4 linked regions of the Homo sapiens genome follow. The protein of the gene in region 4 interacts with the protein of the main gene of each other region in a pairwise test. Each region holds a gene or a part of one and is shown on either strand. Other genes may lie near its edges.

Region 1 (4,263 bases), on a different chromosome or scaffold from region 4:
TCACTGTTTGAGTCCTGTTAGACAAATGTGGTTATTGGTGTGTTCCCTTGTATTGAGTTGAAATCTGCTGTTTTATTTCACCCACTGCTTCTAGGCAATATCCCTCACGTCGCATTCCAGATATGATCTTACTAGTGCAGAGTACAGCTGGAAATATTTCTTCCTTTTTTCTGGACATAGTATATTAATGCACTGTTTTGGGCTTAGATCACCCTAGATATTTTTCCTCCATATACCATGCCTAAGTGACTACTTTTCTTAAACACTTATGAGTGTTAGTAAGTACTCATTGCCTTAAAATAGAAGGAAGAATGAGTAGGGATATAAAAGTATTCTAAGTAGTCTAGATAGACTACGTAGACCTTTTCTTAAGAAAAATCTTAATTTTGTTGTTCTTTAAACAGTAACTTTCTACTTTTCCATTCTTTCCCCTGAAACAATACTGTTATTTTAAATGTTGAATCATAGTTAATATCAAACCTTGTTATTTTTTGAAGATAATCTTTTCAAATCACAAAGACAATTTAGCAACATTACAAAACATTTAGAAATAAGAAGGGAAAACAGTACTCTTAATTCCTCTACTTTTAAAAGCTACCATTCATCTGGTATAATGGTTTTAGTTTCTATAGTCTTTTAAGAATTTTTTTTATTGTCATAACCATATGTACATACAATTTTGAATCCTGCCTTTTTTCACTTAGCATTATATCATAAGCATTTTTCCAAGTTATTATAGTCGTTATAACCATCATTTTTAATTGGCTGCATTATATTCTTTTGAATAGCTTAGTGGTGAAGAAAACAGACTGTGGAGCCAGACTGCCTGGGTTCGTATCCCAGCTCTACCACTTACTGGCTCTATGATCTTGGTGAAGTTATTTAACCTCTCTGTGTCTCAGTTTTCCCATTCTATAAAATGCAAATAATGATATGCTCTACCTCATAGGATTGTAAGGATTAAATGTGTTAGTATATGTAAAGTACTTAGTGTGCCTGACATATAGTAAATGCTCTAGATCTTGTCAAGAATTATTGTCATCATTACTGAGTGCACATATCAAAAATTACTTAAGTATGTCCTATTTGGGGACTTTTAGGTTGCTTCCACTTCTTGTCCTTTTAAAACCTTGTTATGAGTAACAAAGTGTACCTTTTAAGATATTCTTCAGAATTATTTTTCATAGGCTATTCTACTCTACAGTTTTTTAAACTTTTAAATTGGCTTGTGCTCCACTTGAAGGTATTTGTACCGCATCTACACCTTTTGTATTGTTGGGAGATGTTTTGGATTGTCTTCCTTTGGATCAGTGTGACACAATATTCACTTTTGTGGAAAAAAATGTTGCTACTTGGAAATCAGTAAGTGCCTTAGTTTCTTTTCCTGCTAACTTTATCTTTCTATAGATCCAGAATTCTGAGGGTAGATTTTTTTTTTTAAATTTATTTGTAGTATTGCTGAATGCCAACAAGTTTCTGCCTATGAAAAAATTATATACTGCTCTCTCGGGAGAGCCAAATAAAAACCATGTGTGGAGAAAAACTTGAAATACAAAATTTGATTTAATTTGTGTAATAAAAATTAACTTGAAAATTCACACTTTCACATGTTTAAAACAGTTACTTAGTATCATGTTTTCTTATATCTGAAAATATTTTTATTTCATTGAAAATGTTATTTGCTTAAAAAAAGTGAAAGTGGCATAGTAGATTCTCAGTGCATGTTAGTGTTCTTTAATATTTCACTCTGGCAACTTATTATTGAAGAATGTGTAACAAGTTCTGAAGAAGAGTGATAATTTCCGTCTTAATTTCAGAATACATTCTATTCTGCTGGGAAAAATTACTTACTACGTATGTGCAATGGTAAGTAATTGAGTGATAAAATGATTGCTTTTTAAGTGTAAATATGCCCAGAAAAACACATGGTTGAATTAAATACCAGTGATAACATTTTAAAGATAGATTAGGTATCTGCATTTTTAACTAACAATCTGATTTGTTAGAACTCATTATTCACTTTAAACTGTTTTTGTTCTGGGCATAAGCTTAAAGTCAGAAACGTAGTAAAGTTTGTCTTTTTCATGTCATGTTGAACTTGTTTTGTTCCTAATTTATAGTACTTTTTTGTGGCAGTGGTTTCGGCCCCCAATTTAAGAACTACTGCTTTAGGAAAATACTCTTGACACACTGGTTTAGAAACTTTTAGGTGTGGTTGTAATAAACATAGAATTATCTTTTCTGTGTAACGTTCATTTTCATATATTGTTAGATCTCCTAAGAAGATTGTCTAAATCCCAGAATACAGTCTTCTGTGGACGGATTCAGCTCTTTTTGGCCAGGCTTTTCCCTCTGTCTGAGAAATCAGGTAAGCTTTTATGCATTAAATGAGTTTTCTGCAGGAAAATCTTTTCCAGTTTTTAATAGATTAAAATCTGTCATGATAATGAGAAAAATGGTTCTAAAAAGTTGAAAGACATCATAGAAATTGTCACTTTATTTTCTTTTACTTATAAATGTATAGCAGTCCTAGTATATAATACAGGTAATCCTGAAACAAAGTCATGGATTCTTTTAAGTTCAAAGCTTATTAATGTAAAGTTGAATCACACTGAAACATGTAGATATGAACCATCATATCCGTATTTCATAATGTATGCCTATTTTTGTGTTTGGATTTTCTCTCAGTCACAACTATTTAGCTATATAGACTTCCTTTCATTTCTCTTTTTTTAACAAATTTTTATTGTGAAATATAACGCTCATATAGAAAAGTACATAAAGCGAATAATAATGAAACAAATACTGTATAACCACTATCTAGCTCCTGAAATGGGACATTGCTTGTCCTCCAGAGCCTTCCGCCTCCCCAGTATGTTCAAATATGCGAGATTTTAATATCTCCTTGCTTCAGTCCTCCCTTCCTTAATATTGGGCTAATGTACCACCTACTTTATATGTTCTGAGGATTAAATGAATTAAAACATGTGAAGAGCTTACATTAGTGCCTGCATGTAGAAAGACCTATAGCATATGTTAGCAGTGGTTTATGTGCTTTCTTTTTGTCATCTTATGTCTGTGCTGTTTTCTTTCATACTTATTTTATGTGGTCAGGGTTAATATAGATTTACCACTTCTTGTATTTCTGGCTTTCTGTCTGTGATCATTTTCCCTTTTAGACTTTTCTTCAGTGCAGGTCTGTGTTTTGCCTAAAAATCGTTACTTCTCCTTTATTTTTTTTCCTTTCTTTCTTCCAAACTCCTGTTAATATTGGTATTTTGACCTCCTCCCAATAGGTATAAGATTCTAGATTGGCACTAGATACAGGATTTCATCTCACGGGAAATAATCTTTACTTTGTCTTCTGTTTCCCATTTTTCTATTGACAAGTCAGATGTCAGTCTCACTTCTTGAAGATAATCTACATTTTTTTCTCTGCGCTTAAGATTTTTTTTCTCCTTTGGTTTTCTTTTAGTTTTACTATGATGTATCTCTGTGTAAATTTCTTTTTATTTGTCCTGCTTAGGATTGTGGACATCTTGAATGTATGGATTAGATTCTTCCATCTAGTTTGTAAAAATTTAGCCATTATCTCTTCAAATATTGTGTATGCCTCTTTATCTTTTTCTTTTTCTGGAACTTCAATTAAACATCCATTATACCTTCTCACTGTATCCTCTGTTTTTTACTCCTTATATATTTTTTCATCTGTTTGTCTCTCTCTACCTGATTCTGAATAATTTCTTAAGAATTGTTTTTTTTAGTTTTCTAAACTTGGTAAACATTGTTACTTTATTGTCTGTATCTGGTAATGCCAATACCTTAAATAAGTCTTGGTGGGTCTGTTTCTCCTGTCTGTTTTGACTGTTTCTCACTCATGGTATCTTGCCTCTTTGTGTGTCTGGTTATCATTGGCTGTTACGTTTGAGAAGATGTGCTCATTGCTACTGGAGTATCACTACTTCTAGGCCCTCTCAGAGACCAGAGCTAGGAGAGACATATGTGTATACTAACCATACTCATCTGTATTTGTTTCTGTATCTGTCAGTATATATTTTACATGAACAGCAGCAAAAAATATGAGATTCTACTGATACCTCTGAGTTGAATCCAGCACCAGTAGATCTGTTTATTAACCTCTTTCTCTAACAGTAAGAAACTTGGCTCTCATTAACTATAATGTATTTACTTATTTGTTATACATTATCACTTTTTCATTAATATAATTTACATTTGTGCTTCCAACAGAATTATAAATTATTC
Region 2 (4,263 bases), on a different chromosome or scaffold from region 4:
AGACAATACACATGCAAATAATTAAAATATATGGTGTATCAGATAGGTGATAAGTACTTTGGAAAATAAGCCAGGGAAGATGAAAGAGTACTGGAGGTAAGTGTGTGGTTCTACCATTTTAATAGGTTAATCTCATCACCAAGAGGGTAACATTTGAGCAAAGATCTGAAGGAGATGAAAGAGCAAGCAATGAAGAGATATCTGGAATAGAGTATTTGTTTCAGGCTGGAGAGAACAACAACTCCAAAGTTGGCTAGTGTTGGTGGGCTGGAGTTGTAGGAGATTATGTCAGGGAGGTTTAGATTGCATAGGGCCTTGAGTGAGTTGGGGACCCACTAGAGGGTTTTCACAAGAGAAGTGATTGCTGTGACTTGGATTATAGAAATCTCAGCTTCTGCACTACACCTCTTCTACTTGAATTGATCCCTGTTGAGGTCAGTATGCTGGCCAACTGCCTTCAAAAGCCACATTTCCCACTGAGATAAGAATAGGAATATAGACAGAATAGCCCGAGTGACACAGAGGGAGAAGTCTGCTGCACAAAGGAGCTGGGCATGAGTTGAGCGAACAGCCTTTCCTGGGGTATCCCATAATTACATAGTTGGCTTAGAGCAGAACCCAGGGCTATTCCCACCTGTAGCAGATTCTTCAAGGGCTTATAATTCAAAACAAAAGAAAACAAAATAAAAAAAAAAACCTAGTTTAGAATGCAATAAGGAGATTCAGTGGATGCAATAGATCTCTAGAAATGAAAGGGGAAATTGAGCACCTGGCAAATACTCATTTTCCATTTCTACAGGATGGAGAAGATGAAAGTGCAGAGCATGATGAATATATTGATGGTGATGAAAAGAACCTGATGAGAGAAAGAATTGCCAAAAAATTAAAAAAGGACACAAGTGCGAATGTTAAATCAGCTGGAGAAGGAGAAGTGGAGAAGAAATCAGTCAGCCGCAGGTGAGTCAGTTACTGTGCTAGATATCAGAGTTTTTGTCTTTTTATATTTCACTTTAATTCAGATTGAATCCTCTCTTCAGCTAATTTTTAAAATACTATTTTCATAATGTTTGATAAACATAACAGTTGTACAAATTGGCCCATTAGCAGGCCTAAAATAAAATACACCAAGCTTAAAGTAAACATAACAATGATCCTATGAGTTCAATTCCATTTTATTTCTCTCTGATCCTTTTTTAGAAAGGCTCTATACTTTCATATATATAGGGTAATAATGTATTAGCTAGATGTGGAAGAATGCATTTGTTAAATACCAATGAGAGCAGTAGAGTAATTGTATAGAAAGAAAAGAGACATCCTCAAATAATTTCGGTAAGCAAAATTTGTCAAAACTGATGAAGAAAATGAGTGAGCCTGAAAACATTCTTAAATATCTTTTCAAGTCTGATTTACCAAATACCATATACCTATCCTAAGCTCAGTAGTATCATAAAATAAATTTCAGCAAATGGTGAAAAGTTTACTGTCTGGTGATGAAAGTTTGTTGGATTTATGACTCAACATTTTATTCTCCTGAAATTCAACTTAATTGAAAAATTATCTCTTTTGTGATTCTATTTCAACTTTATAGTATACATTTTAAATAATATTGCTTTAAAAAACAATAGTATTTGTTTTCTTCAAATACTATTTGGGGATAATATGAATGTAACTACATTTAAATAACATTCTTTTTCCCTATCATGTTTCTCAACCACATGTAGAAAAACTTAAAAAGGATTTCCACGCTATCATTGCATAGCTCCCTCAATTTTTTCTTTATGTAATCAAATAAAAATGATTCCCAGAAATTTCCACTAAAAGCATAGCTTTTAACATTTAGAAATGGTACTTAGGAGTCATCTTAAATGTCTTTTTTCCAGCAATATTCACCTGACACTCAAGTAATCACTGTTGAATAATTTTACATACTAGATTATATTATATATACCATACATAGTAGCTAATATAGACTAAAGATTTTAGTGATCATATGCATGCTTCTAGATTCATAGAGTTGAAAAACCTCTCATTCACACTGTAACTTTTAGTTAAATCATGAATATAATTATGGATACATAATGTTTTATTCCTCTCATTCAAGGCATGTGTTTTCTGATTTTAAAAAATTATGAATTTTTTTAAAGGTTAGGTTTATAATGTAACAAAAATATATTTAAAAATTTTAATAGATGAGCCAACCAAATATTTATTTATGTTAGATTTAAGTGTTCCTTAAACTCCCAACTCAGTCTTGTAGGCTTTAATCAATTTCAAATACTTATATACCCTATAATATAAACTATAATTTAGCAATGCTAAATTTTGTATAAGAACTAAAGTTCATTTTTAATGTACCTTTCATAAGTGTCTTTAAAAAATTGTTTACCTAATATTAAGAAAAGTCAAAGTTTGCATTTTCCAAAATTGTGTTCACTCTTACAATTAAGGGTTATTCTTAAAAGATTTCCTTGGCTGTAGTATGGGCCTGATGACCAAACATGGCATTGATAGCTAGATTTAGGAATCTGATCTATCATGAGAATACTGGAGAGCCACTGAAGTTTTTACAGGCAAATGATATATTGAGATTGTATTTAGTATGGAGAATGGATTGATAGAGGAGTGTTTTGGGCTATTATACAAAATACCATAGACTGGATGACTTAACAGACATTTAAAGCTTAGTTTTTATGGTAATTTCTTACATAGGAACATATATATCCACTTACTTATGTAAACAATTTTTCTCTTTTTATAAATCAGTATAATTTGCAAAATTAAAATCACATAATTTGTATATTCACTGTAGAGGAAAAAGTTATATTCAAGTGCATTGCAAGTCTACTAAGAAAATTAAATAAATTTAAAAAGTACGTTAAATACTTTTCTACTTAGAAAAGTAAATTAAATAAGAAGTCTCCAAAGGTGGCTTGAATATTTTAGGTAAACATGAGTATTGTGGACATTGTTGGATTCTTTTAGGTAAAATAATTGGCAAAGTGTGCCTTTGTAAATGGTGCAGACAGCACACATTTATTTATAACTGTTCTGTTCCCCCACATTTTCATTATTCACATTCTCTACTCTCCCTCCTTCATCCTATCTGTCCTACCTACAAAGAGAAACAAAAGAAAAATAAGGTCAGGATAGAGGAGAAAGTACAGAATTTCAAAAGGAAGAAACAGTTTTTTCCTCTAGTGTAGAAATTTCCATGATTGTCTCATGACCACGTATTTTTTTCAGTTCATAAAGTTGCCAAAATCAGACCCTGGCATGGTGGCTCATGCCTGTAATCCCAGCTGCTCAGCAGGCTGAGGTGGGAGGATTGCTTGAGCCTAGGAGCTCTAGGCTGCAGTGAGCTATGATCCTGTATGGGCAACAGAGCAAGACCCTGTCTCTAAAAAAATAAAAATAAATTTTAATAAATTTCCAAATCATTAGTACTTTTGGTTATTTATACCAGCGAGTCTCTGAAGTTAACTTTATGGTTAAAAAATAAAACAACACAGGAAAGCTCCAAATGTACTGAAAAACTACAACGTGGTAAAAGGGATAATTATATTTAAAGGAAAGTCACTGCTCAGTTTGAGTTATAATGGGTATAGCTGCCAGCCAGATAGGATGTCAGTGTGATATCATTATCTATTCAAAAATGTGTACTCTTGATACATGAGTTTTCATCAGGGTGTGCTTGAAGTACTCTATTATCCTTTGGTCATTCTTCCATTTAAGCAGTAGGATCAGAAACTAGACTAGCCCACCAGCCCTTTAAGCAATGAGCCGTTCAAAGTATAATTTTACTGAAAACGTGTGGTATTGCTTCTATTGGTAAGGAAACATCTGGAATCTGTTAAAGCTGGTTATCACTTTTGGATGTTAAACCTACACATGTATTTATTGAGTGCTTAATATTTAAACTGGGGAATGATATTTAACAGAATAATTTTCAACAAGTTTACATATAGTAGGATCTTCTCCTAGTAATGTGTTCTCAACAATGTCTCTAGTTGTTCATTTGAAAAAAGAGCTCAGGGGAAATACAAATCCAAAACGCTTCCTAGTTTCTCTCCTTAGAGAATCGGCACCCTTATATCTATTCTGACTTCCTAGGATTTCTAATCCCTTGTCTCTTCCCTTTTTAAAATGTACCAATCCCACTTTCTTTCCAGCCCACCTTCTCTATGCCTGTATCTTGACTACTGGATACAGCTCAGCAGAATCACACAGGCATATACAAGCTGGTATTATTATGGATTTCTAGAT
Region 3 (4,263 bases), on a different chromosome or scaffold from region 4:
TAGGAAGCCCCCCAGGAATAGACCCTGGTTGTGAGGCTGTCTGAGGAGGCCTTTTGTCTCCCGGTAGGAGCACGTTTGCCGTGGACGGGAAAGATTGCAAGGTGAATAAAGAAGTGGAGCGTGTCCTGAAGGAGTTCCACCAGGCCGGGAAGCCCATCGGGTGTGTACAGCCGTGCAGGCCTCGGGGAGGGAGGGAGGAGGGTGCGTGGGCCCGCGGCCTCTGTTCTCAGCCAGGAGCTGCCGCTGATCCTGAAAACTCACAGCTGCTTTTCTTGTTTTAACTGAGGGGATTTCACACGATGTCACTGGTGACTTAACAGGAAGGAGAGGCACAGTGCACTTCCCTAGAGGAGGCCTGGAATTCTCTTGGCTCCCAGAGGTGTCCCTAGGCAGTCCCTCAGGACCCCTATCCTTTACCAGACCCCTTCTCCCAAGCCCCTTAGCCACAGTACCCCCAACCCCGCTGACTTCTGGCCAGTCACTGCAGCACGTGCTCCATCCCTGACGCCATCCACTCCCAGCGGCCTCCCTCCTGGGGAGCCACAGCCAACCACGCCCCTTTGTCCCTGCTCAGACAAAGCCTGGGTCCTGAGGTTGGCGGCACGAGTAGGGCGCCCACTCCTTCATCCACGTAAGCGCCTTGGCTTACGTGGCGGGTCGCAGCCCCGCAGGGAGTGTGTGCTCTTCAGCGTCTGCTGCCGGGAAGTCACTCTCAGATGTGTGAGGGTGACCCAGCAAGGCCGGGTTCCGCCTCGGCAGGTGTGATGCTTCCACGAGCCTCCCGGCACCTGCTCCTTGGTGGTCCTGGAACGCGGCGCTGTGCTGTCCAGGTCTCAGCTGCGTCTGGTGCTGGCAGGGCGAGAGCCGCACTTGCGTGGGTGAACATCAGTGAGGCGCACTCGCGATGGCCGCTCACTACCGAGTTCTGTCAGCCGAACAAGGATGAGGATCTATCGGAATCCTCTGTCTCCCCATCCACAGTCACTCACTTAAGGACCTGCCTGGTCACTGTCCAGGGAGGCCCCTAAAGTGGAGCCTCAGGAAGAGGTGCAGGCTCAGAGCTCCTGAAGGAGGTCCCTGCTGCAGCCGTGTCACAGCCGGGGTGAAGGTTTCGCCCATGGTCTCCACCTCGGGATCCCGTCCTTGTCAGAGAAGTGTTCCTTGGATGAGCGCCCAGAGGGAGGAGCCCATGGCCCTTTCTTCTGTGACTGATTAAAAATCTCGATGAAACAAGACAGCCCCTGGCAGGTGAACCACTGCCTCTGAGCATGCCTCCCCTGAAAACAGTGTGGGGCGCAAGCCCATCTCCTCCCCAATCCAGCCATGAGGCTCCCCTGGAAACAGCACAGGGCGCAAGCCTGTCTCCTCCCCGGTCCAGCCATGAGGCTCCCCTGAAAACTGCAGGGCACAAGCCCGTCTGCTCCCCGGTCCAGCCATGGGGCTTCCGTGCACGGTGACCCACAGGCTTTTTTCCTGAGGAAACCTAAATCCTTTCCCACTGGCCCCACCCACCCCTCAGCCTGGTGTCAGAGGCCTGCGTGGCCAGCCAGGGGCTGTTAGGCGGCCCAGCCGCTCACTGCTGGGACCCCTTCCTTGAATGCAGTAGTCGAGGTGGGCGCTGGGCTGTGCCAGGAGCCACTGTGGCATCTGTAGCTGGCAGTTGATGGCTGGGCGGCTGCACGCAGCGTCGGGAGCTGCTGAGAACCTGCTTCCTGGACTTTCTGCCTGCGCAGAGGGCGGCAGGGGGGTTTCATCTCATAGGCAGCCAGAAGTTGCTTCAGGACATGCAGTTTTGGGGGCGGGTTTGTTTTGAGAGTATCGCTCTGTTGCCCAGGCTGGAGTGATCTTGGCTCACTGCAACCTCCGCCTCCCGGGGTCAAGCAATTCTCCTGCCTCAGCCTCCCAAGTAGCTGGGATTACAGGTGTCTGCCACCAGGCCGAACTTTTGTAATTTTAATAGAGACAAGTTTTCGCCATGTTAGTCAGGCTGGTCTCGAACTCCCGACCTCAGGTGTTCTGCCTGCCTCAGCTGCCCAAAGTGCTGGGATTACAGGCATGAGCCACTGCACCTGGCTGTGAAATGTGTTTTTAACAGTGTTTCGTTACAGCTCACGGTAGCAGTTTCCACCTGGGCCTGTCGGGAGTGGGTAGGACTGTAGACAGCGGGAGGAGGGATGAAGGGTGCGGGGTGTTGAGGGCAGGGTGGGGCCTGACAGCTGTGGGCTACACCACAGGTTGCCAGGGGATGGGGCTGCTGTTAATGAGGCCGTACTCCTTCCACTGTTGCCCCTGGGTGGCCATGAGGCGCTGGACGACACAGGTCACTGAAGGCCCTGCTGTGGGCACAGTGCCTGGCACACAGGGGCCTCTGTTGACTTGGCAGGGAGGGGTTCCTGATGAAGCAGAAGCAGGTCCCAGGGGTGGGTGTGGCAGGACCCTCAGTTTCAGGGCTGCTGCGGCCTGTGCGTCAGGGTCAGGGGCGTGCGTCCACCAGCCTGCACTTGTTGAGAGTTGTGCTGCAGGTCGGAGGCTGGCGAGGCTGCTCCTGGCCCGTTGTGCCTCCTGTAGAAGGGGGGCTGGTGTGAATGAGAAGTGCAGCTGTGTTATCTATTGCTGGGTCACAGACCACCCCACAACTCAGGGCTGGGGCAGCCGCACATCATTACCCTCTCTGTGAGTGGACTTTGGCAGCCCGGGACTCTCGCCAGTCTGGGGTGTCCTGGGGCTTGGGGCTTAGCCCATGGCTGTTGGGGGTTCCCCTCAGGGGTCCTTGGCCTGGTGCTTGAGTGCCTGCAGGGCGTGCTTGGCGGGGAGTGGGGCTGAGGACACCTCACTCTCAGCCTTGAGTCACCTGGTGCCACCTCCATCACATCCCATGGGCCACAGCCTTCTGGCAGCGCAGGCTCACAGGGGGCAGGGTCGGCAGGGCTCCCGTGGCAGGGCAGCCTGGGGTCATGGCGAGGGTAATTTCTGTTCTGCAGGCCATGCAGCCTGCCTGACCCGTGTTCTTTTCGCCTTTCAGCTTGTGCTGCATTGCACCTGTCCTCGCGGCCAAGGTGCTCAGAGGCGTCGAGGTGACTGTGGGCCACGAGCAGGAGGAAGGTGGCAAGTGGCCTTATGCCGGGACCGCAGAGGCCATCAAGGCCCTGGGTGCCAAGCACTGCGTGAAGGAAGTGGTCATATCCTTCCTGGTAGCCAGGCCCGGCCCGCTGTCGTGCTTGTCCCTGAGACGTGCATAGGGACGCCCCTCCCTCCGGGCTGTCTTGGTGGGTGGCCTCTTCACCGGGAGCTGCACCTGCTGCTCTCCCTGTGGGGCCTCCCCCAGTGGGCACCGCAGCCATGTGTCTAAGGGCAGAGAGCAGATGGCTGTGACAGCCCAGCTGGTGTGAGGTGGGTCACAGACACGTCAGAAGCGCAGCTCTGGTGCGTGGTTGGCAGATCTGGCAGATCCAGGTCCCTTGCCTGACTGTTTAGTCTGCTCAGCAACACCCAGGCAGCCACACTCCGGGCCCAGCGGGGGGAGGGTGAGGAAAGAGTGTGTGCGAGGTGTGGAGGGAGAGCAGCCGGGCGTGCAGGAGGCGGGGGCTTCCTGAGATGCTGGGGGAAAGCGGCCGGGTGTGCAGGAGAAGGGGCTTCCTGGCTTCATTTGGGCGGAAGTTCTCAGGCCAGTTTGGGTGGCCAGGTGATTCAGCCAGCCTTGCGGCCCCCAGCCCCTCCTGTTGAGGTGTGTACCCTGAGTTCTGAGATGATGGACCAAGAACACCAGCGGGGCTGTTGCCCAGGGAGATTTGGAGGGAGGCTCCTGGAAGGCCCTGCCTGGATCTGGGAGAATGTCCATGTGAGCCCAACTGAGAGAACAGAACACTCCGGGGTGCCGGAAGGCACTGGAATGAGTAGAGCATGGACCCGGTCCCCTGCAGGTGTTGTTCTGAAGGGTGCAGTTCCTCTCAATGGGGCAGCTTTTTTCTCACAGGCAGCTTCAGACGTCAGGCCCCATCTCCCTCCCTGCGGCTTTCCTGCTGGGCAGGAGCGCAGTGCAAGGCTGGCCCCAGGCCTCTGACTGCTTGCAGGAAGATAGGGGCACGTGTCTTGGGTGGTGTGGAGGCCTGGCCAGTGGTTACATGCATGGTGTTGGGGAGGCTCAGGTCTGTGGCTGGCCGGCCCCAGTTGTGCCACCTGCTGCCCTGTTGCCTGTTGCCCTGCCCCATGAGGACCGGCTCCTTCACGGCCAGTTCTTCATCTGAAAAGCGGAGGTGCTGCCAC
Region 4 (5,027 bases):
GAAATAAGACATTATTCTGTAGAGTTAAGTCATTCATTACAATCACTAGAGGCTCTAGACTAGAGTCAGGATGAAACAGGATCCAATACCCACTTGCGTTTAATTTTAGACTTTTCATGCCTCAGCTCACAAACAAAAAAAAGCATCCTTGTCCTTCATAAATTTCCATAGGCCTTTTGTAAACTCCACAGCTGCAGAGGTTAAATGGTCCAAATGACACATCATAAACGCAGGACAACTGAGTCTAGAATTAGCATCTTTAAAAGAATAATGTGGGGCATGACAGTATAATAAAAGTTAATATTTTACTTGAATAAGAACCTCTTTCCATAAATATGTGGAAAGCATACCTTATTTTCTTTATATTTACTGAGATCTGCTATGCAGTATTCCTTAAATAATTTATCATAGTATTTCTTAGCAAGTCTCTTCTCCCTAGACCCATGAAAATATAAATATTATACATTTAGAAACTCAACCATGGTTTGCTACTTTCAAGTGATGTCAAAGAATACATACTACATAAATATTAATGTTTTAAGAGAACTATTACTTACATGTGCATGGAATATCTGGATATTAACTATTAAAAGTGGTTCACTCAGGGAGGGAAATTGGAGAACTGACAGTCACAAATAAGAAGGAGAATCACTCTTCACTGTTTACCCTTTGTAATGTTTGGATTTAAAAAAACATTTTCAGGTATGACTTTTTTCTAAAACAGCAGCATATAATAACATATTACAAGATAACACACAATACTGTAAAAAAGAATGTTATTTTTTTGAAGACTAAGTCAAACAATGAGAAGTCAGTTAAAACTGCCAAAAATTACCAAAAGAACCAAATAATCCTAGGCTTGATTTTATGTCCTTGATTCAGAACTGTTCTATGAAGGGGCTGAACACCTTGACTAAAAAACCACTCAGAAAACAGGAGAAACAGGACTAAAGCATTTGATGCATTACGCCTCTGATGGCTAATTACCAAGTCATGTCCATTTCGTCCTCCTCATTCCATAGGAATCTATGATTTTCTCGTATAACATCCAAGTCTGTCTTGTCATTTTCCCTGGAAAACAGAACTTTTTCAATTTAATACAAAAACAAAAGTAGTCAAATTTAGGTTAAATAGCTCTGTGAGTTTTGGAAAATTTTATTAAAAATATAATACATGAAGATAGTTTTTTGGTGAGTATAAATTTGTTCACATATTTATAAAAATATTTCAGTATTTTCAAAAGGCACTTATAAAAATACTACTACAGAAGCAAGTTAAATGGATAAGGAATCTGTCTGTAGCATTGGTTTCAATTATACAAATGGTGCTAAGTTACCAAAGCTAGAATGAGAAACCTGACTAAACACTAAATGAATAAAGTGAATGAAAATAAGTTTCATTCTAACCAACCACTCTGCTGAGATTTAATTTTAAAAAATATGAAAAGTTTTCCGTATCTCATTTTACTAGTTTCCTAGGTAGAAGACTGAGTAAAGGAGGAAGAAAGCCAAAGGGATTGACCTTTCAAAATAAAATGCTAACAGTCTGGGGGTAAAAAAAAAAAGGAAAAAAAAAAGTGATTGTTGGGAGATATAGGATAAATTGATAGGTGAGATAAATTGGGGGTAAATGAGGTGGTACTAAATTTTCTCAGAGTCCTACCAACTCAGAAAATTGTTAGAGGGAAAAAAAAAACCTCACATAAAACTAAGAAGTTCTAAGACACACACACACTATAGCAGCACAATTCGCAATTGCAAAGCTATGGAACTGACCAAAGTGCCCATCAACCAATGAGTGGATAAAGAAAATGTGGTGTGTGTGTATATATATATATATATATATATATACACCATATATATATATATACACCATATATATATATATATACACACATACATACACCATATATATATACACACCATATATATATACACACCATATATATACACACCATATATATATACACACCATATATATACACACCATATATATATACCATATATATATACACCATATATATATATATATACCATATATATATACACACACCATTTATATATACCATGGAATACTACTCAGCCATAGAAAGGAATGAAATGATGTCTTTTTGCAGCAACTTGGATGGAGCTGGAGGCCATTATTCTAAGTGAAGTAACTCAGGAATGGAAAATCAAATATCATATGTTCTCATTTATATGTGGGAGCTAAGCTATGAGGATGCAAAGGCAAAAGACTGATATAATGGACTTTAGGGACTCAATGTGGGGGAAGGCCAGAAGGGAGGTGAGGGATAAAAGACTACATTTTAGGTATAGCATACAGTGCTTGGGTGATGGGTGCACTAAAATCTCAGAAATCACCACTAAAGAACTTATCCAGGCAACCAAAAACCACCTGTACCTCAAAAACTATTGAAATAAAAATAAAAATTTAAAAAAACAAAAACAAAACAAAACAAAAAACAAGTTCTGATAGAAGAGCCTTAAACATGGGAAGGACTTTGATGTGCAAGAAATGCTAGACTGAGAGTTCTTGTTTACCTATCTTTTAAAAAGCAATCCCAAACATCAAGGTATAAAAATTTCCTTATTTCAAAGATCTTTGCCAAGAAGACACATGAGTATTCTTCAGATATTCTTTTATCACCAGGGTTGTGCCCGGCTCAGCAGGTAAAGAGTCTACCTGAGGCCTGTCCAAAAAAATGGGATTCATGAAGAGCTACTCAGGAGCTGTGGATGGTATCTCTACCTTATAATATAAAAAAGAAACTGGGGCCAGGTGCAGTGGCTCACGCCTGTAATCCCAGCAGTTTGGGAGGCCAAGACAGGTGGATCACAAGGTCACGAGTTCAAGACCAGCCTGGCCAAGATGGTGAAACCCCGTCTCTACTAAAAATACAAAAATTAGCCAGGCATGGTGGCAGGAGCCTGTAATCCCAGCTACTCGGGAGCCTGAGGTAGGAGAATCGCTTGAACCACAGCGGCACAGGTTGCAGTGAGCCGAGATCAAGCCACTGTTCTCCAGCCTGGGCGACAGAGTGAGACTCCATCTTAAAAAAAAAAAAAAAAAAAAAAAAAAAAAAAGGCACACCGGAATAGAAAGCAGGGAAGAATGACAGAATCAGAAGGCACAGTAGCTGTGGGTCTTTAAAGTTTCCCATAACCCACATTCCCTTCTATGTAAACTTCCTGATACTTACCCCAAACGCTTGAAGTCTTCTTTTTTGCCACCATAGTATAAAATATAGTCATTTACGAACTTTGTATGTCTTTGATACTGAAATGCAAAAAATTAAGGATTTTATTCTCTTAGGAGCTGTTTGGTGTCATAATATATTGCTGATTGGTGGTAAAAAAAAGCACAATATGAGTCTATTTAGCTTTTTAAAAATATTCACACACTATACATGCTTACACATTCAGAAAATCTAGAAGGGTATATATTAAATTGTTGAAAGTGAAGATTGTAAAGTACAGGCTTTCTTTTGACTATTTTTCAAGCATATACTACTCTTGTGATAAAAATATACCTCCATCTGGGGAGAAATAGAGCTTCTTATTCTATTGCTGAACTGCATATAGCCTCCTACCACCACTCATTCTAATAATCACAATATGAAAAATTTAAAAATTATAGTTTCTAAAAGTAGAGAATTTATCTTTCATTATCATAAAATATAATTTATCTATTTTAGTAATGATAAAGCCTCTAAATAGAAGATGCAACTTTTATAATTATATTTATAATTTATAATTAAATCCCAACATTAAACTTTCAAAAAAGCAAATATAAAAAATCAATTTTTATAGTCTTTTAAATTCAAAGAATAAAATGCCATGTTTTTTCAAAGCATTGTAACAAAATATATGAGCATTTTACTTTTTGTTTTAAAAAGCTCAACAGCACTCTCTCTAGAGCCAAACATGCACATAATAGCTAACCTCACCTTCTACAATATTCTCTGTGACTATTAAACATGTATAGTGATTTAACTGATCATAATGTGTACTAACAGACAATTTAATCAGATTATGGTATTTCCATATTGTAACAAACCAGTTAATATTTCAGGAAAAAAAAAAAAGAGAGAGACAGAAAAACCAAATACCTGGAGATCTGGATTCTAGCTCTTGATCTACCACTAACTGGTCACATGACCATGGCAAGTCATGTAACCTATTAGAGCTGGGGTCAGCAAACATTTTCTGCAAACGGCCAGATGGTAAATATTTCAGGCTTTGCAAGCCATATGGTCTCTGTTGCAAATGCTCAGTTCTGCCATTTTAGCATGAAAGCAGCCAAAGACAACATATAAATGAAGCATGGCTGTATTCCAATATAATTTTATGTACAAGAACAGGTGGTGGGTGTAACTTTTGCTTCCGGGAAGATGGAGTAGGCAAAGATGTACTTCTCCCTATTCCTCATACTAATAACAACTAAAATCCTTATACATTATATATCAAACATAAAAAGACTCTAAAAGGTGGAAGGAAGAAGGCGCCCCGCTAGGGACCTCCTGAAGACCTATGGTATGACATGATAGCGAGTTCCCTAGGTTTTCTTTTTGTCTCATGTATCCTAGAATTGGAGGTAAAGAAGGTGACAACCCGGAAACACCAACAGGCACGGACTAAAAAATCGTCAACAAAAGCTGTTCTCTCTAACCAAATGACCAAGAGTCAGCCTAGCAAGACAACTTTGAGACAATAACTACTCTACTCTTGTCAAACAACCCAGAGAAAACTGTGGTTCCCAGTCAGAATCGCAATTATTAAAAAGTCAGGAAACAACAGATGCTAGCAAGGCTGTGGAGAAATACGAACACTTTTACACTGTTGGTGGGAATGTAAAATGGTTCAACCATTATTGAAGACAATGTGGCAATTCCTCAAGGACCTAGAACCAGAAATAACATCTGATCCAGCAATCCCATTACTGGGTATATACCAAAAGGAATATAAATCATTCTATTATAAAGATACATGCACATGTATGTTTATTGCAGCACTATTCACAATAGC

What was found. Proteins that work in one complex are often made in the same cells at the same time.
Region 1: the proteins of FRA10AC1 (region 4) and THOC1 interact in a two-hybrid assay, tested with the Homo sapiens proteins (one large-scale study listed by BioGRID and IntAct).
Region 2: the proteins of FRA10AC1 (region 4) and CWC27 interact in a two-hybrid assay, tested with the Homo sapiens proteins (one large-scale study listed by BioGRID and IntAct).
Region 3: the proteins of FRA10AC1 (region 4) and GATD3 interact in a two-hybrid assay, tested with the Homo sapiens proteins (one large-scale study listed by IntAct).

Annotation. Positions count from the first base shown.
Region 1 is NC_000018.10:257,285-261,547, reverse strand, and holds part of THOC1 (THO complex subunit 1), read left to right. Parts: intron 1-427; exon of another isoform or gene 428-830; intron 831-1,243; coding exon 1,244-1,362; intron 1,363-1,817; coding exon 1,818-1,866; intron 1,867-2,272; coding exon 2,273-2,368; intron 2,369-4,263. UniProt on the Homo sapiens protein: Component of the THO subcomplex of the TREX complex which is thought to couple mRNA transcription, processing and nuclear export, and which specifically associates with spliced mRNA and not with unspliced pre-mRNA.
Region 2 is NC_000005.10:64,803,430-64,807,692, forward strand, and holds part of CWC27 (spliceosome-associated protein CWC27 homolog), read left to right. Parts: intron 1-799; coding exon 800-957; intron 958-4,169; coding exon of another isoform or gene 4,170-4,263. UniProt on the Homo sapiens protein: As part of the spliceosome, plays a role in pre-mRNA splicing. Probable inactive PPIase with no peptidyl-prolyl cis-trans isomerase activity. As a component of the minor spliceosome, involved in the splicing of U12-type introns in pre-mRNAs.
Region 3 is NC_000021.9:44,140,183-44,144,445, forward strand, and holds part of GATD3 (glutamine amidotransferase-like class 1 domain-containing protein 3, mitochondrial isoform 1 precursor), read left to right. Parts: intron 1-67; coding exon 68-160; intron 161-759; coding exon of another isoform or gene 760-892; exon of another isoform or gene 893-981; coding exon of another isoform or gene 982-1,216; exon of another isoform or gene 1,217-1,233; intron 1,234-3,022; coding exon 3,023-3,179; intron 3,180-4,263.
Region 4 is NC_000010.11:93,691,659-93,696,685, forward strand, and holds part of FRA10AC1 (protein FRA10AC1), read right to left. Parts: intron 3,280-5,027; coding exon 3,203-3,279; intron 1,072-3,202; coding exon 988-1,071; intron 436-987; coding exon 351-435; intron 1-350. UniProt on the Homo sapiens protein: May be involved in pre-mRNA splicing.